Linked DNA regions of Homo sapiens. The protein of the gene in region 4 purifies or fractionates together with the protein of the main gene of each other region. This does not show direct contact. Each region holds a gene or a part of one and is shown on either strand. Other genes may lie near its edges.

The links.
Region 1: the proteins of CDC42BPB (region 4) and DDX21 purify together in Homo sapiens (co-immunoprecipitation; one large-scale study listed by IntAct). This does not show direct contact.
Region 2: the proteins of CDC42BPB (region 4) and RIMS1 purify together in Homo sapiens (co-immunoprecipitation; one large-scale study listed by IntAct). This does not show direct contact.
Region 3: the proteins of CDC42BPB (region 4) and FAM89A purify together in Homo sapiens (affinity purification with mass spectrometry; one large-scale study listed by BioGRID and IntAct). This does not show direct contact.
Region 5: the proteins of CDC42BPB (region 4) and FMNL2 purify together in Homo sapiens (affinity purification with western blotting, with the first as the bait; one study listed by BioGRID). This does not show direct contact.

Annotation. Positions count from the first base shown.
Region 1 is NC_000010.11:68,982,869-68,985,568, reverse strand, and holds the end of DDX21 (nucleolar RNA helicase 2), read right to left. Parts: 3' UTR 501-2,700; downstream 1-500.
Region 2 is NC_000006.12:72,175,390-72,180,049, reverse strand, and holds part of RIMS1 (regulating synaptic membrane exocytosis protein 1), read right to left. Parts: intron 476-4,660; coding exon 135-475; intron 1-134. UniProt on the Homo sapiens protein: Rab effector involved in exocytosis. May act as scaffold protein that regulates neurotransmitter release at the active zone.
Region 3 is NC_000001.11:231,036,825-231,042,159, forward strand, and holds the start of FAM89A (protein FAM89A), read right to left. Parts: upstream 3,431-5,335; 5' UTR 3,388-3,430; coding exon 3,097-3,387; intron 1-3,096.
Region 4 is NC_000014.9:102,966,363-102,971,022, forward strand, and holds part of CDC42BPB (serine/threonine-protein kinase MRCK beta), read right to left. Parts: intron 3,900-4,660; coding exon 3,789-3,899; intron 2,355-3,788; coding exon 2,110-2,354; intron 1,997-2,109; coding exon 1,891-1,996; intron 809-1,890; coding exon 684-808; intron 26-683; coding exon 1-25. UniProt on the Homo sapiens protein: Serine/threonine-protein kinase which is an important downstream effector of CDC42 and plays a role in the regulation of cytoskeleton reorganization and cell migration. Regulates actin cytoskeletal reorganization via phosphorylation of PPP1R12C and MYL9/MLC2.
Region 5 is NC_000002.12:152,628,221-152,632,880, reverse strand, and holds part of FMNL2 (formin-like protein 2), read right to left. Parts: intron 4,583-4,660; coding exon 4,348-4,582; intron 3,226-4,347; coding exon 3,157-3,225; intron 3,057-3,156; coding exon 2,976-3,056; intron 874-2,975; coding exon 744-873; intron 1-743. UniProt on the Homo sapiens protein: Plays a role in the regulation of cell morphology and cytoskeletal organization. Required in the cortical actin filament dynamics.

The DNA.
Region 1 (2,700 bases), on a different chromosome or scaffold from region 4:
AATATTAGCCAGGTTTGGTGGTACCCCCCTGTAGTCTCAGCTACTTGGGAGGCTGAGAGGGAAGATCACTTGAGCCTAGGAGTTCAAAGCTGTAGTTCTACCTTTAGAAAACGTATCCTAAGGTGACAGACGAGTATGCAAACACATATGTGAGGATATTAACTTTAGGGTTGTTTATAATGGTGAAAAATTAGAAATAACCAACATGGACATCGAGTACTGGTTAAATGTGTAGTGGCATATCCATACAAGAAAACATGTCATCAAAAATGTCCATGTAAGCCTGTACAAAATTGTGCACAACATGTTGAGGGGGGAAAAGCAATACACAAAATCAAATAATTCCAATTTTATAAATGAACATGTGGAAGACTGCTCACTAAAATATTAGATAAGGGTGACTGGTTTTTTTTCTCTTTAGATTTTTATATCTAGCTTTTATTATTTTTATAATAAATATTTCAAGCTATTTTCATTTTAGAAAACAAAAGCCACTAAAATCAAGTATTACTATCTTTATTATGGTATACAGCAGTATTTTATACATTAGCTCATTTTATAGTAAAAACATTTATGCACAACTGTAGAGAAACTGCTGCACAGATAGCTCCAACTTAAATTAGAAAATATTTTCTTTGTAGAAAATAGTAAAAATTATAACATTTACCAAGCTAACCCAACAAGTTCATTTAAACCAAAAAGTAGCTAAATACATTATACATTTATAAATACAGGTTGAATTCTGGGATCCAGGAGAAACTTTAGTCCTTTATTGAAATAGCCATGTTTTAAGTTATGTGAAGTGAAATTTCTATTAATCTTCTCTCTTACTCTTAATTTATGCCAGATTATTTTTCTTTAGGCTAAATCCATAATCCACAACAAGGTTTTAGCTGTTCTTTTCTAAAGGACGGGTACCATATCCTTTTAATCTGCTTGATAAGGTACCCATGCCTATCCAAATAATGAAATGGTTCAGTTATTATTAAAGCATGCCCAGTATTTGGGCAAAACCAGAATCTAATAAATTACACTGTCACCTAATACCCATGGCTTGATGGGAAGCCATGAGGAACAAGGGTAAAGTGATAAAACTGGCAAGTGGATCAAGGAATAAAAGCCAAGAGAATTCTGAGACCAGAGGGCAAGAAATATCTAGTCGGGATTCAAGGACAGAACTGAAGTTCAAATAGAAAAAGAATGTTGCCTCAAGGATTAGGAGCTGAGCTGGCTATCAGAGCTCCTAGTACATGGTGATCAAATAAGGGGCAGTTAGAGATAAAGACTGGATTAAGCAAGAGAAATCAGGACCAAGAAAGATTCTAGGTATTCACAATAATTAAATGAAAACAAGACAGACCATGCAGCTTTAAATTTCCTAGCATAGTAGTTCCAGGATTCTCAGTACAGAAATAATCTCTGGAAATTAAGGCGAGAAGATAATGCCACTCTTAAGCTCCTGTGCTATGTAGAATGTTTCCCAGAGAAATAATATCTGAGAAATCAGGCAGTTATCTGGCCAGGGGCTACATCAGGTTCTTCAGTTCCCTCAAAACAACTTAATCACATACAGTTTGTCTTAAAAGGAAGCCTCCAAGCAGCTAAAACAAACTTTCAACAGACATTCAGTTTAACAGATCCTATACTGTGGCTTTAGGAACTAGGCCACTGACTACCTAAAAACCCCAGCTTGCCCACTTGAAGTTAACCTCTAGAAACATTAGTGATCTGTGAAGTTTTCACCATTAAAACAATGCTTTATCATCCAAATCATACTTGTTCTTCTCTTTGCTTTCCAGTTATGAATTTGTTACCTTTTTGCATTTGATTATTTCCAGTGGTTTGGTTCTTTTTTTTTTTTTTTTTTTTTACATACTCTTGAGCAATGCTAATCTGCGCCCCCTACTCCCTTAAGTCCTTCTTGGTAAATAATGTTAATCTTCCAATAGGAAGAAGTGGAGTACATTACCATTTAAGCACCATTTATCCAGCCTACTTACAAATAAAGCTATGGAGCCACCTTATACATGTGAAATTCCTTAAAACCCTGGCTTTCTATTAAAATGTACTTTTATATATACTATCTATGAAGAATTCACTAAAGCATGAATCACCTTATAATGAGAAGCTAAAAATGTATCAAAACGAACATAAGTATAGGTAATCCACATCAAACATACTACATCTTCCAAGTCTAGAGCATACACTGGTATAAACTGTATTACAACCCAGATTAGTTTGAAATCTTGTTTCAAAACATTGCTCAGTATTAAGTCTCAGTAGACAAATAATAGGACCACATGAGAAACTGTTCGGCAGGTGGCTGAGGAAACCTTAACTTCCAAAGGCTCAAAGTGGTCCTCCAGAGACTGTTACACTCCCTTAGGTATTTATTTCAGGGAAGGACACTATTAAGGGACACTTTTGAGTATAAAGACAGGTGAACTCACAAAGTATAGGCAGATACATGCTTGATTTTATCTTCTAATCTACAGATAATACATTAGAATAAAAATGTAATGAATTCATACACCTTTCAAAAGGAAAAACTGATGAAGAAGTAACAATAAAGTTATAAATGATAATGATCAGATGAAATAATTTAAATGAAGCTTGTCTGTGTCTGAAAGAGACAGGGACTTGGCAAGTGGTCAAAAGGAGGCACAATGTGCTTTTAACTTTGCATGAAAAATAATGTTC
Region 2 (4,660 bases), on a different chromosome or scaffold from region 4:
CTTTTGTTTTTCCATGTGGGGCCTGAGAAGTACTACTTCCACATATTCCTCGTAATAGAAGTTAAATTCTTGAAAACGGCTTTGCTCTCCTAGCAAAATCTTGCCTTTTGCTTACAGGGTGAAAGAACTATTACCTCTCTCTAGGAGGTTCACTTCTAGACCTGGATGAAGCCTGCTTCTGTTCAGGCCCCAAGGCTTGCTGCGAGGGCTCAGCCCCTTTGCTCCTGTCTGGTGGTGCGCTGGGAGGAGCAGCATCCTGGGAGGAGGCAGCTGCTGTGCTTAGGGGTGTCTGAGACCGCGATCGCTCTTGGAGTCGTGCTTTCTTTTCTCTTGGTACCTCAGAGCCAGCACCTGTAGCTGTATCACTCAGGGTTCCATCCTGACTTGTCTGCTGAGGGCCACTTCCAAAGAACCATGCCCCAGATTTGGTTAAGATTTCTTGTTGCTTTCGACATAAATTGCATACCCACATAACCTATTTGAAGAAGAAAGAACAATATAAATTTTTATGCCCTCTTGGAAATAATTTTTCAGTATCTTAAAATATATTTAAGAAAAAAAGAACAGTATTCATTTTCATATTTATCCTTGCAAATTTCTTGTGAAAATGGTCCTCCCACAAGTCACAGTCAAATATATGAATGCCTAGACAGGGACTTGTCTGAGACTAGAGAGCCTCTCAGCAGCCAGAGTAGAGGTTTTTTCTCAGCATTTCTGATTTGATTATTCTGAATTTCCTTTTACCATATATCTGTCATATTTTTTATAATTGACTCTGGAGTGTTAGCAAAAATGTTCTAAGCAAGGTAGTTAACTGATTAGAAAAATGTTACCAGGAAAAAAAAAGAAAAATGTTACCAGGAACTACAGAATCAGTACGTAAATACATAAACCTCAGTACTTGCAAGTATTTTTAAAAAGTCTGTCTTTTCAAAAATCACCCACAATTAAAGGCAATATTAAAAATATTCACATAGAAGAAACATACAAAGTAAGCACACAAAAAAGGTCAATGTGTATATTTTCTCTAGTTTCTTAGTGATAAACTAACCTTAAGCTTATTTATGCTATAAAATATAATTTTCCATGCACATATTTACTAAAGCAATAAATGTGACTCTGAGTTTATTCATATGTGACCACTCCAATGTAATGTTCCCCAAGGAGAGCTATTGGGGAACCATCATTTAGCAACATATCCACTGATAAATTATAAGATGTAGCACCACTTAAAATAAACTATATGTCTGTTCTCCATTTGATGACCTTTAAAATGAATGTAATAATGAGGACGATTATCATAATAAAAAATAATAATAGCAGCAATGACTAGCTGTCACAGGGCAAAGATAGGTGCTAACAGCTCCATGAGCTGTCTTTTCAAATATCCTCAGTACCTCTGTTTCTTTGTGCTGTGACTTTACATCGCTGCCTCAGTTACATGCCTCCAAAAGCACTTCAGGTGTTTTGTGTTTGTTTCTACTTCAGAAACTACCTCCACAGGAAAAACTAATTACCAAACTCTAGGCTTCCTTTTCACAAATACTGACTCAATCAACATGTACTCAAAAATATTGCATCAGGATGAATAAATCGTAGAAACATTAACTGATAAGTAATAGAAAATAGTAAAAGAAGCATTGTTTAGTAGGTCAAATGAAGAAAATGAACTACTGAAAATATTCAGATAAATGGGGAAAAACTGTAACTGTAGCCATAGAATAAGATGAAGCTAAAATAAGAATAAGAAAAAGACAGGAAAAAAGTAATACACTTTTTTAAAAGGAAAATACTGCAGGTGAATTAAGAACTGCTTTCCAGGAAAGAAAACTCAAATGAATTATAATATAGGAAAAATTAAGACTGAAGAGAAATACTTGCTATAAAAAATTTAAAATTCATGAAGGTTAATTGATTTATTTAGACTTTCCCAGTCATAAAATGAAGTGTACTAGGTTCAAAAAAGCAGTTAGGTATAATGTCTACACAAAGTATTATAACCAATATTACGGAATTCTCATCTACTAAGATGTCAAACAAGATGAACAATTCATTGCATAAACCTATATCAAAATAAGGATTTTATGGAAAGTAACTTCAATTTAAGTGCTAGCCAAATAAGGGTATATTTTACAAAATCTATTACTGAGTAGGTCCCTCAGAAGTCCTGATTGTTTGAACATGGACATATTAAGGGTAACATTAAAAGGTGCAGTACTCCAGGGCCAGGACCTTCATGAACAGTCAGTGACACTGAGTCTCTTCTGCCCAGAACCCTGAGTGGGGACAGGACGTGTGTGGTGGGAAGGTTTTGGTTGGTTGGTTTGTTTTTTGTCTCTTTAGCTGACAGACCATAATAAGAAAGTTTGAAATCATGTAATTCAACAAGACTGGTATGAAATTTTGACTATTTTACATCAAATAAGAAGACGTTAAATTTGTATTTCTCAGACTAATAGTAAGCAACTTATTATCATCATTTAAAGTAGGTTCTTTTCAGCCAGGTGTGGTGGCTGACACCTGTAATCCCAGCACTTTGGGAGGCTGAGGGGAGCAGATCTTCTGAGGTCAGGAGTTCGAGATCAGTCAGGCCAACATGGTGAAATCCCGTCTCTACTAAAAATACAAAACTTAGCCGGGCATGGTGGTGCATGCCTATAATCCCAGCTACTTGGGAGGCTGAGGCAGAAGAATCACTTGAACCCGGAAGGCAGAGGTTTCAGTGAGCTGAGATCCCGCCACTGTTCTCCAGCCTGGACGATAGAGCGAGACTCCATCTCAAAATAAATAATAAGAAATAAAATAAAATCAAGTAGGTTCTTTTCTACAGAAATATCAAGGTATACTTAGGATAAATATGCAGTTTTTAAAAAACCAGAAAACACAAATTTACAATTACAAAGTTTCTAAAATTGAATAAAGCTAAATAAAGAAGCAGAAAGGAGCACAATAATACTGATGAAGGGTAAAGGATACTCTTCATTTTACATTTGAATATTCTCTAGAAATTATTATCACAATCTTATTTTGATTGCTTCACATTTTTAAACGTTACAAAAAATGGGTCAATGAGAACTAACTGCCAGATTTGGGCATGTTCCAAATTTTGAGTATGTGCAGAACTGCTACCAGATCAATTAAAAGAAACACAATTTATTATTATTAAATAAGTTGAATTTTACAATTTAATTTCATTTCCAGTTTATTCAAAAGGTTACAATTAGTGACTATGTCAAAACAGCATAGGCATTTTAAATTCTATTCTTAAAATACTTTGTATTCATTTAAGTCTGTGATGCTTTGTTAATTTTTTTGTTTTTAACATTTAGTAAAATACTGTATAATTCCAAACTTTTTCTATGTCTTATTTCCTTGTACACCACAACATTTTTAAATTTGTATTTTTAAATTAACTATAAGTGTAGTCAATCCATCCTCCAAACTGAAAGTAAAATTAACCATGGCAATGTTAAAATATTTATTTTTATCAAAATATCACCTCCCAGTCTCTATTTTCAGTTCTACAAATTAATCATACCACAAATTTTACAAATAAAAAATAAATTGCTCATATAAGTTATAAAGAAAAATATATAAGATTACAATAGAATATTGTCATACATTTCAACACAGTTAATACCAAACATTGCAGACCTCTACAGTACATTTTTTGAAGTCAGTATTAAGTATTATATTTGCCTGAAGCTATAGATAATACAAGAGTGCTGTAGGGAGTCATTTTTAACAGATTTTTTTTTAGAAAAGAGGATAAGACGTAACTTTGCCTACAAAAAAATGCTATTTATTTAAAGCACACAAACACACCTTTTAGAAATTGCACTATGCAGGATTATACCCTGATTAAATACCCTGGGATGTGTTCCAAACTAATCTAAACTAAAGTAGGCCTGTGCAATAACTTATCTTAACAATTTACAGATGTTAAGCAATCACACACAAACTCAATTCAAATACTATCGTGAAGTTACATGACTTTTGAAACACCATGCCACATATCAGAAAATATGCAGGACTGAAAATTGTATTCTGACCTTTTGCTGTAACTGCATTTTTAATTGTCTTTTCCTCTTAATTCTTAAGAAGTACAATAAACTATTTTATAAAACCCATAGGAATTTTTTACCCAGAGAAATAAAAATTGCAACACTTTCTACTATACATATACAGAAAATTCCATAGATAAAACCACAAGTTTGGCAGAAAAACTAAAAAGGTATTCAAGTGGAAGAAATATTAAAATATTTACAGAGCCGGACACACAGAACAAAAGAAATGTGCCCTTGATTTATTCTTGATGATATTACTAAGGTGATTCACGACGAGGTCTAGAATAATTTCTTTTTTTTTTTGGTGGGGGAATGGAGTTTTGCTCCTGTTGCCCAGGCTGGAGTTCAGTGTCGCGATCTTGGCTCACTGCAACCTCCGCCTCTTGGGTTCAAGCGATTCTCCTGCCCCAGCCTCCCGAGTAGCTGAGATTACAGGCACCTGCCCCCACGCCCAGCTAATTTTTGTATTTTTAGTAGAGACGGTGTTTCACCATGTTGGGCAGGCTGGTCTCAAACTCCTGACCTCAGGTGATCCACCCTCCTCAGCCTCCCAAAGTGCTGGGATAACAGGCGTGAGCCACTGCACCCAACTC
Region 3 (5,335 bases), on a different chromosome or scaffold from region 4:
GCTGATGCGATGACAAATTACCTTCCTCCCTAAAGCAGCTACTCCTCCTGACTCCCCAAGTGCCATAATGAACCCCACTTTACCAGTGATTGATTATTAAGCTTCAAAACCTTGCTAACTGCCATACAGTGGTATACTACACACTCACTGAAGTCATTATAATATATCTTGACTGGGAAAATAATTGCAATGTGCAGCCCAAAAAGCAAACCAAAATATATGTGATCAATGTGTTGTATATATGTATGTGTGTGTGTGTGAGAGTGCATGCATGTGCACAGACAGCAGACTGCAATGGTTAAATAGGGCTTTGGAGCCAAAGAGACCTGGTAGGGTCTGTGACCTTATGGGAGTTCAACTCTCAGCATCCAATTCTTTAATATAAAACAGACTTTGAGTATCTATCTCATGGAGAATTTATACCATTAAATAAGATACTATATAGAAAGCACTTACATTGCACCTAACAGAAGATATCCCAAAATACTAAAAGTGATTATTTCTAGGTGCTGGCACTGTAATTTTTAATTTTTTGCTTGGCTACATTTTCCATGAAAAAGCTTAAGTTATCTTTGATCCCCTTTTCATCATCTTCCTTGACTCAGTAATTCCTCCAGCTTCGGCTTCAGAAAAGTGTCTCCCACATGAGTCTTGTTTCACATTAGCAAGCCCCCTACCCTGCTGGGGACTCCATCACCTCTCCCATGAACACCTCTCATCTTCCTGTTGAGCCTCCAAAGTCCAGCTCTCCCTTCTGCACCCTGCTGTAGAATTCATTTCTTCAAAGTCCAACTGGGATAATACCATTCTCCTGCTGAATGCCCATCCTTGCTACTCAGGCTTCTCAGAGTCCACTCGGTCCACCTGCCCAGGCCCTTCTTGCTCACATTTCAAACTGGCGCACTCCCAGTTCCAGCTCCGCAGCTACCTTCCTGGTGCCTCTTTCCCTTGTCGAAATTCTGTCGCCTTCTGAGGTCTTCCACACCACCCTGCTCCCTGTCCCTATTAGAAGTTGCCCCTCTTTCTATGCTTGCTTTAAAAAAAAAAATTTCTTTAAGGCATTTATCACATTCTACCATGACATCTAGTTATGTCCCCTGCCACAGATTTGACGTCAGGCCTTCAATTTAAACAGATCAACACAAACTATTTTGCAGATATCTCAGGAATGAACTCCCAGTTCTTGTTTTGCAAGGCCTCCCCAGAGGGAGTCTCAGCTTGAGTTGTCCACTCAGACCCCATGGCCCCAAGTCAGTAAATCAATTAAAAAGCCGAAAGATTCTCTGGGCAACTTTAAAGGCCTTGTGACATTTCTTGAAAGGAACTTGTCAAAACCTGCAGCCATATCTTATCTTTATCTCAGCTAAATACCAGGCAGACCAAAGATGGCTGTTTATTTTTCTTGTGCTTCAAATAGGCTTACAGAGAGCTCTGGTCCAAGGCGTAATTATACGGATGTGGTTGTGCTTCAGTCACACCAGGAGGGACCTGGAAAAATACTTCTGGGAATGGCACGTTGACTCCCAAGCCACCATAGCAAGACTCCAGAGCATGTTTATAAACCACAGCTTCACAACAGGAGCGGCCCCGAGGTTTTTCTATCTCTTGCTCAAGTATGGAATTTAAATAATCAAAGATGATCTTCCTACTTCACCCCCGTGGTTCTGCTATGTCCAAGTTCAGACTGTAAACACACTACGTGTAGATTTATCTAATTAAAATGCAGTTCACCAGCTGTGTGATGCTTATGTCAATGAATGTTTTTTAATAAATTAAAAACGGTTGGCTTGGAATTTAAGTGGTTCTGTAAGAAGCTTAGAAAATCTTTTCAGTGAGAATTGGAAATCACTTCAATGCCAGCTACAGAGTAGGAAGACAATATCTCTTTGATTAAAAGTGTTAAGGCTGCTTTCTGAATTCAATTAAGTCTTAGTTTTCAGAACAGATAATGCTCCTGAAAAAAAAGTATGCATACCCTGAATTTTTCTAAACAATATCTTAAATGCACTAGATACATATTTAAAAGATTCCTATAACAATTTATTTTTTGGCAAATTTAGTTTTGGGAAAAGGCAGCTTTCCTAATGTTAGATTTCTTAACAATTTACCTATAGGGAAAGGAGACAACCTGGACGAGGTGAATGGAAAGGGAGGCTTTTAAAACGAGGGGATTGGGAGGAGGTGATGGGGGCCAGTAAGATGGTAGAAAAGAGGAAAAGTTTTTGATTTCTTCTTGCCTGGCCTACGCCTGGCCGAGAAAGCTGGGGAAAGACTCGCTGTTGCCTAAATCCCTGCCCTTGTCCTACTTTTAGCGTCACCCTAAATCATGTGTGTTCTGGTCCACAAACAGCTAATGTACTTCCCAAGCACAGAGAAACACTGAGCCCATGGTATGGAGCTTAGACACAAGGCGAAGAACTCACATGGACAGCACCCAGACCGGGAGGACAGCCACCTCCCACCTTTCTCAAGAGGGTTTGGGCAATCAGCTTCGCGGGGCTGAGGGACCCGGCCGCCTCCCTCGCCCGGGGTGCGCGTCTGCTTTCGCAGCCATCTGTGCGCCGGGGCCATCCCGCGGTAATCGGATCACGGACGCGCGGCCTGGGGCGCCGGAAAGGGGGCCGGGCTGTTCCAATCTGCTGTCTACACTGGCGGCGGACAAAAGTTGTCCTCTTCGTGGTAGGAAAACGCAATCGCGTTAATCCGTTGGGCCGCTGTGAAAGCCTTTCCCCCACCGGGAAGGTCTGTTTCACTCGGGGAGAGGTGACAAGGCCGCCCCCGCCCCCAGGCCAGGCACGAACCCCGCACAGCGCTTCCGGGCGCCCAGGTTTCCGAGCCAGCGGGGCCGGACTGAGGGCGCCGGGCATAAGAAAGCCGCCCTCTGCGCGCGGGGCTCTCCCGCGGGGGTTCCAATCGTGGGCACGGAGCACGCGAGAAAAATGGGGGTCGTTGGGAGGACGGCGCCGGCGCCTGGGGCGGAGGAGCCCGAAAGGGCGGGTGGGCGCGGGGACTTCCGGACAGAGCGCGGTCCCCGCGAACTTTCCCGGGACGGCGAGCCCGGCCGGGAAGAGCCCCAGCTCGCGGAGCCCCACTCACCATCTCTTTGCGGAGCAGCGCCAGAGCGGCGTCCAGGTTGGGAGGCTTGGCGGGCAGCGCTGCCGCCCGGGCCCCGCCGCCGCCCGGGCCCCCGCGGCTCAGCTCGTCCTGGATGCGCGACTTCTGCGCGTACAGCCGCTCCAGGTGCCGCCAGCCCCCAGACGCGCCGCCGCCCGACGCCGAGTGCAGCAGCCCGCTCAAGCTCTTTGGCAGCGGGGGCAGCCCGTCCACCCGCAGCCCCCGGACCGCGCCGTTGCCCGCGGCCCCGGGCGCCGCCCGGGCCCCACTCATCGCGCCGCGGCCCGGCCACGCGCCTGCCCCGCTGCAGCGAACCAAGGCTTTCCCCCGGCCCGCCCCCTTCCCGGCGGTGCCCCGCCCACTTCCCCTCCCGCGCCACGCCCCCCCGGCCCCGCCCCCTCTCCTCGAGGCCCCTGCGCGGGCCCCGGGTCCGGGTGGCGTCCGCGTCCAGCAGCCGGGCTCGCCTCCACCCGGGTCTCCTCCTCCCTCGCGCCCCTCCAGCGCCCTAATTCATCTCCAACTCCGCGTGACTACCCTCTAACCCCCCGACTCACCTCCAGCCCCGTCACGAACCCTTCTGTGCCACTCCCTAGCTCCGAACCTACTAAGCCCCCCGCGACCCGCAGCTTCCCGGTTCACCCCCATCTCTGTCCCCACCTCCTCTGAACCACCTCCCAGCTTCCCGGCTCACCCCTAGCTCCGAACCCTCTCACCCGCGCCACCCCGAACCCCAGCTTCCCGGCTCACCCGCATCTCTGTCCCCACCTCCTCTGTGCCAACCCCCAGCTTCCCGGCTCACCCCCAGTTCCGCCCCCACGCCCTCTGTGCCACCCTCAGCTCACTGGCTCACCCTCAGCTCCGAACCCACTCACCCCCCACCCCAGGCTTCCGGATCACCCCCATCTCTGCTCCCACCTCCTCTGTGCCACCCCCAGTTCACTGGCTCGCCCCCAGCCCCGTCTCCACTCCCTCTGTCCCACCCCTCAACGCCCGCTCACCTCCAACCCGGCTCCAGACTTCCCCCTTACCTGCCAGCGCTCCTCAGCTCCTTGCCTCACCGATCCCTGCCCTGCCCAGGGGGCGGCCCAGCTTCAGATCCCACGAAGCAGGCCGTTGCAGGGGGTGGGGGTACCGAGGCTCTGGCTCACAACCGGCAGGACGTCGAGGGCAGGAGGCCTGGCTCTGGTCCCAGGACCCCCGGCCCTCCCCGAGGGCGGAATCCAGCCCGCCTCCTGCTGCCTCCCACTCGCCGCGGGGGGCGGCTGGGGGCCCCAGACCCGGGCAGGTCGCTCCTTGCCGCCGGGCGCGCTGGCCTTCTCAGCACGGCCTTGTCCAGCAGTACCCGCAGCAGTCAGCAAGAACGCCAGACCCACTTTTGAAACTTCAAAACACTAGTAAACATGCCTTTCATTCTGGCCATAAACACAAGAGTAACTCTAAGTGGAAATGTCAGGAAACCAGAGAAAGGGATTAAATCTCGGAAATTATCCATCAGCTCAGGCAAAAATAAACACGACGCACACCTCAGAGGAAAAGAGAAGAGAGAGAGAGACTCTGCCCCTCCCAGGAAAAGTAAAAATGACAGGCAGTTATAACCAGATTAGAGATAGAAAAGATCAAGAAGTAAACGCTACAGCCCAACCGCAGATTAAAAACTAATGCAGTGTATAGATTGGATAACTTTAATGCCCATTCATTATTGGCTTTAATTATAAAGGGATTTAATTTTCTAGCTACATTCAAGGGGATCAAAATTATAAAGTGTTCTGAGCACTTCAGACACCCAACATAAAAGAGCCCTGCACTTTGGGTTGTTTTATACCCTTTACCACCTCCTAGAGCCCACCCCAGAAGCAGTGTCTTTGAAATTGGCACAATATTCTCCCTGGACGGTTGCAAGTGGGTGAGACTGATATGAAGAAGCTTTAGTGCAGGCGGTGTGATTGACAGCACCCAGGCTTCCCACCCCACCCACTGCCCAGAATTTTCCGCCTCTTCACTGTGCCTCACCTTCTACTAATTACCTAGTCACATTTCTGGATGTCAGGTATTTATTCATTCACTTATGTAAACGGTGGGTGTCTTCAGGAGAGTGACCAGTCTGCCTGTGTGGGAGTAAGGGAGAGGAAGGGGTGGGAAGCATTTTGACATTCGGTTCACACCTTAGCATGAATTTTTTTTTTTTTATGAGACAGTCTATCACTCAAGCTAGAGTGCAGTG
Region 4 (4,660 bases):
CCGGGCATCTTTCTCGTCACTGACCCTGGAGGAGGGAACAGATGTTCTATCTCACGAAGCATGGCTATCAGGGAGAAGCCAAACAAGAAGGGGACGTTCCCGCCTTCCTCGGCACACAGTGACACAGTGTCACGTCAGCTAGAGTGCCCGCAGTGTACCCGTTGTATACACGGGATCTCATTGATGGATGCGTCGTTACATTGCACATGACTGCAGTTTAAAAAGACACCAAACTTCCAAGACTCAAGAATGAAAAAATTCTATTACTCCATAAATATATATACCTACTACGCACCCACAAAAATTAAAAATAAAAACTCTTTTTTTAATTACAACTTCACACCTTAGGAGCGGAGGGCCAGGTCCCAGCTCGCTCCAAGTCTCCCTGCTGCTTCTGCAGCCGCTTTGGGAGGGCTCTGCCTCCCCTGTCTCTGAGAACGCAAGGGGTGTGAACGGTTTGCCCCAAGTCCTTCAGTGGGTTGGTGGGGGCGTATCTCCACCTCTATTCCAACAGAACCACTGCCCCAGACATGAGAAGTTCTGGGGAACAGCAGTGAGACCTGCACCCCAGCCTGAGAGGCACGGCCTGGCGTGGAGCACAGGATCAGGCAGAAGAGGCGGGGCAGACCCCATGGACTGAGCAGGGAGCGGATTCACGGCCGCTAATGGGGCCGCGCACGTACCACTGAATGATTTCCGCAATCTGAGCTTCCCAGTGGGCCACTGACTCCTTCTTGGCTGCCAGATCCTGCAGCTCATCCTCCAGCTGTCTATTTTGAGCTGTGAGTTTATCCACAAAGGAACAGAGCTGAAATGAAACAATTTCACCACAGAACTTGTTAATCGGGCATCCTTTAAGTATGCTGGATTTAACACTGGAAGTTCTTTTGAAGACTCTGAAAGTTTTCTTTAATCGTCATGAGATTTTTCCAAACTAAGTTCATGATATGGATTTTTTTCACTGTATCTAGCTTAAGTCACATTTCAATTCAAATCTAAACCTAAACTGATGGAGCTGGAGCTAGTGACTTCAGGCAATTGGCATCTTTTCGCTGAATACAAACATCCTATTTAAAAGACCAAACACATGACTCCATTCAAAAATTAAAACAGTCACGTGTAGTGAAACAGCAAGAACACGGTCTGAGAAACGTGTCCTTGCACACACAGCGTGAATGCACTCACGCAAGCCTAGACGGTGCGGCTGCCGCACACCAGGCCCTGTGGTACAGCCTGTCAATTCCAGGCCCCAAGCCTGCATACCATGTTGCTGTGCGGGACGCTGCCGGCGGCTGTAGCACAATGCTAAGTATCTGTGTATCTCAACACAGAAGAGGTAGAGTAAAGTACAGTATTATGATCGTACGGGACGCCTGTTGTACACACAGTCTATCATTGATGGAAGCATCGTTATATGGCACATTACTGCACTGTAAAAAGACACCAAACTTCGGCCGGCGCAGTGGCTCATGCCTGTAATCCCAGCACTTTGGGAGGCTGAGGTGGGTGGATCATGAGGTCAGGAGATTGAGACCATCCTGGCTAACACGGTGAAAACCCGTCTCTACTAAAAATACAAAAACTTAGCCAGGCGTGGTGGCAGACGCCTGTAGTCCCAGCCACTTGGGAGGCTGAGGTGGGAGAATGGCATGAACCTGGGAGGCAGAGGTTGCAGTGAGCCAAGATCGCGTCACTGCACTCCAGCCTGAGCGACAGAGCGAGACTCCATCTCAAAAAAAAAAAACCAAACTTCCAAGACTCAAGAATGACGACATTCTACTCCCCCATAAATATATATACCTACTATGTACCCACACAAATTAAAAATAATTTTTTTTTAAATTACAACTTCCACACAAAGTGCTAACTCAGGTACTTTGAATTAATTACCTTTTCATTTTCAGCAGTTAGCTTCTTGTTTTCATCAAACAGCATCGCTCTTTCTCGTTCGTATTTATCTTTTATTGTACCTACTGCCTCCTCCATCTCGTTATGCCTGCCAAGGTGAGCGAGAAACAGTTTTAAAAGCTCGTAACTTCACTGATATTCGTATCTATGGCGTGGGTATCAGCTTGCATCTTCTGAACTGAGAAGCTCATGAAAACCTACCGTTCTCGCTTTGACTTTTCTAACTTATCTTTTAACATCAAGATTTCTTTCTGCAGGGCCAGCTGGTGGCTTTCTGAATCATGCACCTCCTTCTTCACATTTTTCACTTCTAGCACATGGGAGGCCTCACGTCTGACCAATTCCTCTTCATAAAATAAGACTTTCTTCTCCAGCTCGGATTTGATTTTGGAAATCTCTTGCTGGTGCTCTAAGGTGGCACCCGCTCCCCGGCCTCCTTGCTTCACCTGAAGACAAAGGTTAACATAAATTGACAAACCTCTGTGTCCTCAAGGGTCACACTGTCCTTTCAACCCCTTTCATCCCAAGCAAGTGCAGACACCTTCCCAAGGACTGTGTGTGCCTGGTCTACACCAGATGACGTAGCTGACCTGGCTAACGTGATCCAGGTTCTAGGGGGTCACAGCAGGAGACGGCCTTGCAGGGGGATGTGCCCAGGTCTGCCTGGGACCCCCGAAGCTCTGCCCCACACCCTGTTCATTCATGCTTGCAGCATTCTTCTGAGGGCTGACTCTGTGCTGGGCCCCCTCCTTGTGACTGGGGTGACACTGAGGTCTCTGCTCTCTTGGGGCTGGCGGGAACTGACAGCAAACCAGTAAAGGGGCAGAGGGGCCGTGCACCCCAGCCAGGTTGTAGGGAGTGGAGGGCGTGCCAGGATGGCTGGGGCGGCTTCTGTAAGGTGCTGGCCTATTAAGTGAGGTGTCAGGCTAGGGGCAAAGAACAAGGGCACAGGCTGGAGTGAGGTGGGACGTGTTGGCAGTGTTTGCAGCATGCAGAGAGGCCAGTGTGTCTGGTGTGGCGGGGCAAGGAGGGGCAGGAGAGGCACTGCTGGGCTGGAGCAGGCAGGAGGGTAGCTGCTGGACAGCTGCGGAGCCACGGAGGCCCTGCCGCACAGGAATGTGATCCGGCTTTGGTCTGCCAAGCTCACTCTGCCTGCTGTGCAGAGAGGAGACTCAAGGGCTGAGAAAGGGGCAGGAGCCTCGGGCACCACATGCCGAGGTCCAGCCAAGCCCGCTGCCAGGGAGGAACAGCATCTCAGGCCCACGTCCCAGAGGAAGAGTTGCCAGATCACTGAGGCGAAGGGAGAGGGCAGACCCATCGCACGCGGCTCACACATGAGGAGATCCAGGCCACGCCATACTGCCAAGGAGATCCGCCTCCGGCCCCTTGCCCACTTGGCCACTGTGGCCTTCCCCACTCCCGCCCTCCGCGGCCTCCCTGCTACCCTCCAGCCCCACCAGTGGGCCCCGACTGATGGCCAGCCTGTCTCTTCCCCAGTCAGCAGCAGGCTACGGGCTTTAAGGAGCTTTTCCAAAACTCAACTGCACCGAATTTAGAATACCACGATGTGAAGAAGGCTATGAATTGATGGGGCTGGAGTAGGAAATGAGCCAATTAGATATTCGTTTCCTAGGACTTACTGTGAATTGCCTGAAACTTTTATATAACAAAGGAAAAACATGAACTTGGCCTTTAAAAATGAAAGCAGTCACGAAGGCAGGGGTCACACCCCCCACCTCTCCACATGTGGGTCTTGTCTGAACAGCCTCGGGTGACACTCGGCCCGGACCACACATTACACAAGGTGACTTCCATGTGGTGGCGTCAGCAAAGATAAGCATCCCTCTCAGTTAAGGGCAGAGACCCCCGCCCAGCACTACCTTGAGGGCCTCCAGCTCGCTTTCCATTTGCTTGCAGAAGTTCTCGCTGTGCTCACGAAGCTTGCGCTCCTTGGAGGCCTCAGCAACAGCATCATCAAGCTGAGCTTCCAGCTACAAAAGGAAGATCCAGTTTCTATTAACAAAAAGCGAGCCCTGCTTCACCAGTTACAGCAGCACCCACGGGACCTCCACAAGAACAAGACCTCGAAGGAGCTCTGCGCGTGTTCACCCTTCATCAAATCTTATCACAAATTAAAGTTTGAGAAATACACTTCTGGGTTCAACTGGGATGGTTGGTTACTAATAAAACAAGGTTCAATTCTAGCTTAAATTGACACTTAAATTTCAAGAAAGGATACATTTCTTGAAATTTAAATTTCACTGATTCGTGAAAACCAGTACTTTTGATATCTGTAGAACTTGAATTCATTTATTAAATGGGCCATTTCAAACACGCACACGAAGAACGAGCAGAATAGCGAACACACGTGCCGGCACCCAGCTTCAACAGTGAGCTCCCGAGCCAAGCCCGCTTCATCTCTGCCTGTGCCCAAACCACTCGAGGGCAATCCCAGGCACTGTTATCACTTCCCCCATATGTGGAATGCTAATTCCTCATTAGGGGTATCACTAACTTCAGTTTTAACTGCCTGTAACTACAAATATATTTGGGTTGCAAAATAGACTAAGAAGAAAACAAACAGGTCCTCTGGGGCTAAAGAACAAAGAGCCCTGAACTTGAAAGGAACAGGAGCATGTGCTTCCAGGCCTTCTCATTTATGGGATTTATCAAGGAAATTTTAATAGAGTTCTAAACTAAGCATCGCTTACAATATGTCAACCATTCACAGCAGAACACTCAGAACACCCAG
Region 5 (4,660 bases), on a different chromosome or scaffold from region 4:
ATCACAATTTGAGAATCACAGCCTATAAATGACTGTAAGGTCAATCTGCATATCATTCCTTTTGCTAATCGAATATGCTTTTGAGGGAACATGGTACATTGGATAATACACTTCATGAGAAGTAAGACCAGGTTTCTAGTCCTGTTTCTATCACTTTCTACTCATGTGACTTTGGGCAAGACATTTAACCTCGAAAAATCTCAATTTTCTCACCTATAATAATGGAGATACTATTACCTTGTACATCCCAGCTATCTTAGAGTCACAGATGATTTAAATGACAAAATGTATAACTGTCTTAGCAAAGTAGCAACCAAGAAGTGCTAATAATTTAACTAGTGTCCAGGCAAAGGCAAAATGTTTACAACTGCCACACTTGAGCAAGTAGAATGGCACAAAATCAAATTAAAAGTGTTTGTTGGGTGATGATTCTCAGATTCTCATTCTCACATTTCATACAATAGCAGCAGAATAAAAAGGGCAGTGAATAAAAGAGGGAAGGGACATGACGCTCAGTGGCCTGTGTCTTACAGAAAGGACACAGAGATCACCTTTACACCCATGTGCTCTTCTGCTCTCAGGGGTGGACAACACCACGGCCGATGTGTTCCAGCTCAGTGTGTCTGACTTCTTAGCCTTGGCTTTTTAAATGGGTTCTGAAAAGTGTTTAAGCAGGGAATGGCTCCACCACAATTAAAGGCATTAAATACCCAAGACGAACGGTAATAGCTGAAATCAAGTACCTGCAGCAGCTTTTTCCACATAATGAAGCTCATTATAAAACAGGGACACTTGGTGATATTTTTCTTTCACCACATTGGATATATAGTGCAACAGTGTTTGCTTTCTGTCTGTTGACTTTGTATCTAAGAGCTGAAAACAAAAGGGAACGTGGGTTAGGTACAAGAGTAAAGGGTAACAAGACACTTACCCCTCAGGTGACGATTTCCCACCCAGAGTCATTAACTGAGTAACAGTCGCCCAACAGGCTGGAGCATTCCCAGAGGAGGGTCAGGATTCCATTTGTTCCTTAGTGAACCAGTCCATTGATGCTTAACTGGCTCAAGGACTTTCCAACCAGGGCACATGCTTAACTATAGGGATGACTCTAAGCACCTAAGAATGATTCGCAGCTTTCCTCTACAGTAGTTCCTATTTACCCACAGGTTTACTTCCCATGGTTTCAGGAAACCCACAGGTTTCAGGTATCCAAAAATACTAAGTGGAAAATTCCAGAAATAAACAATTCATCAGATTTGAATTGCGCACCACTCTGAGCAGCATGATAAAACCTCGCACGTGCCATTCCCATCCACCCTAGACCGAGAATCACCCCTTTGTCAAGTGGATCCACGCTGTAATCATTACCTGCCATTAATCACTTAGTAGCCATCTGGGTTATCAGGTTAACTGCCGCCTATTGCAGTGTTTGTGTTCAAGTAACGTGTTTTATTTAACTGCTCTATTTTTTTTTTTTTTTTTTTTTTTGAGATGGAGTCTCGTTCTGTCGCCCAGGGTGGAGTGCAGTGGCACAATCTTGGCTCACTACAAACTCCACCTCCTGCGTTCAAGCGATTCTCCTGCCTCAGCCTCCCGAGTAGCTGGGATTACAGGTGCCTGTGACCCAAAAATTAGCCCAGCTAATTTTCCTATTTTTAGTAGAGACAGGGTTTCGCCATGTTGGCCAGGCTGCTCTCAAACTCCTGACCTCAGGTGATCCTCCCGCCTCAGCCTCCCAAAGTGCTGGGATTACAGGTGTGAGCCACCAGGCCTGGCCTATTTTATTTTTTAGTTATTGTGAATCTCTCACTGTGCCTAATTTATAAATTCAACTTTATAACAGATATGCATCTCTAGAAAAAAAACAGTGTATATATAGGATTCAGTACTATCTGAGGTTTCAGGCATCCACTGGGGGTCTTGGATCACAGCCCCCATGGATAAGGGGGACACTGATTACATGAACTCTCCCAGCCCTGCATCTGCTATCCCACCTTCCTTGCCTTAAAAGCAGGACGGCTCTAATTTTAGTGCTCTTCAAAGTAAAAAGCCAGAGGAGAAATGGGGATGTACAGCCAGCAGGTGCATGCAGGTGCCTCCTACACAGCAGGGCTCCTATGCTCCAGTTTTTACATTTAGCTTAGGCCCTCCCTTATTTCCTAGCCTGTGAAGACCTGAAACAGACATGCTTAACTGATCATGATCTGCTGGAGGCCAGAACTGTGACTGACTAGACACTCCATATTAAATAACTAGCTCCCTGGTCGGGGGACTCAACCCACTGCCCAGCCTTCTCATGTGACAATCACGTTAGGCCTGCACAGTCTGGAGGGAGTCCACGGAGGATTTTCTCTAGTCTTATTCACATTAGTTAGGTGACTCTGAAAATTAGAGCACCCTGCATGCAACAACAACAACAAAAATTTAAGAAAATATAGAAAAGTACTTACAAAAAGCAGTTTGAAAAAATTTCCTGATTCCATCCAACCTCTGCTAATATTTTAACCTATTTCCATTCAGTCTTTCTCCCCACATAGTTTACTTAGCTGAGATTCAACTGTACATGCAAAGCATACCCTGCTTTCTTTTCTAAACACAAATCTTTCTTGGGACACTCTTCATCAGTATGCTAACGGTGGAAGAATAATAGTTCACTGTATTAACTAGTGTTACAGCACATTTAATCATTCCCACAGTTAGACCTTTAGATTGTTAATTTGCAATTATAAATAAAATACAGGATTCAAAATTCAGACACTTGAGAAAAAATTCCTAGAAATGGAAATACTGAGTCAAAGGGTATGAGTAATTATAGGTTCTATGTGCTCTCTGTCAAATGGTGTTCCAGAAAATTAGTACCAGTTGATCCTCCCATAGCAGAAAATATTCATCAAAACATCCTCCACCACCCTAACTTCATCTCTGCCAGCCATCTGTCCTTCAAACAGCTCTCAAATTTCTTTTAGTCCACTCACCAGATCTAAACTCTGAAGTTTAAATCCATAAACTGCTCCTCTTTTACTGCTATTCATGTAGTTTCCAAGGGCTAAGATGATCTGCAAAAGAAGGTGAAAACAGAAGCCCATCAGTACAGCACATCAGGCACTGAACGCAGCTGAAGTAGTCCTTCATACCTACAAGAAAAACTGCACTTGCCTCCAGAATTTTCTTGAGTTTTTGGGACGACTTTATAGAGACAGATGCTGCTATAATCGCATGTAGTTGCTAGATTCCAATCAAAGAAAGAAAAAGGGGAAAAAAGACATGTTAAAAATGGGAAACTAATTGGCAAGTAAATATTAAGACAGAAGAAAACAGGCCTGCATTTAGAGCATACAGGCTTCATGGTGAGAGTCTACTTTTTCTAAGTATAACAAATTTAATTGTCTTGCTAGGTCTCAGGTAATATTGTTACATGCACGATCTTTACTGAAACTGTTCACAATAGCAAGTAACATAGGAACTTGCTTATCACAAAATCTGTAACCAATCTACAACCACTAAGACTCAGAGTTAAGAGTCCACAGCTGCTTCTGGTAGAACTCAATTTCCTGCCTACCACCTCTAATCATGTCATACAATTAATATTTTTAAATCAATGAAGGAGGCATCAAAAATGAAAAAAAAGGGAGGGGAATATAACACCCTCCAGAAGTTCTCAGAACATGTTTTCAACAGACATACTACTATAAGCAGAAACCAACAAATTTATCTAGAAACAGAATTGGGAAAGAACTGACTACTATAATCAGTAACAAAGTCTATTTAGAAACAGAATTGGGAGAGAACTGAAGTTTATGATATTCATAAATCTCCACCAGATTAACACAAGGGAATGAGAGATGGTTGGCTATTATGTCTATATCACCACAGTTTATTATAACAAACTTCCAAGAAAGAAAACTCTTATGGTAAATATAAAGCTTTCAGCAAAAGCTTGTAAGTCTGCTCACTAAAGATGAGGCAACATTTTTAGAAATGAAAGTCTTATTTTCAGTCTTGCCAACACTGCCAGAAGACTAGTATCTTCAGAGAGGAACCAAGTTTGAGAAAAGAACCAAGTTTCTTTGTCCCCTGTCCTTTTGAAATCTAGAGAACATCTGTAGACACAAAAAATGGCATTCTTTCGGAAGAATGGCAATATGGAATATGAACATTCCCCATTTTTCAAATTTACTTTGCATACATAATGTGGAAAAGATGGTTGAAATAAAAATGCAATTTAGAAAGTTCTGGGAAGGAGTCTTTAGAACCCATCACACTGAGTACGATTCTGGGAGAGACTTTAAAAAATAACGATTCCACATTTCTTTGGACCCCCTCCCCTGCCAGAGTCAGTCCACTCACAGGAGTCAGCATCTGAATGCTTTCAGCAAAGTTCCCAATGAAGGCCATGATGGTCATCTTCTGCATGAGCCTCTCGATTTTACTAAACTGCATCATGAACCGATCTTCATCTGACAAGTTTTCCAGAGGCTTCCTTTCCCGCTCGTAGAGCCGAAGCACTTTCACTTCATTCTCAGTTGGTAGGAACCGCATCAAGCATTCCACAAAGTCCACAGGCAGTGTCTTCAAGTCAAATCTAAAGACAGATGTGGAGAGATTAGCATTAGAGAGAAAAACCTCCTACCCCCTTTTCAAGTTCATCCATCTTTTCAGG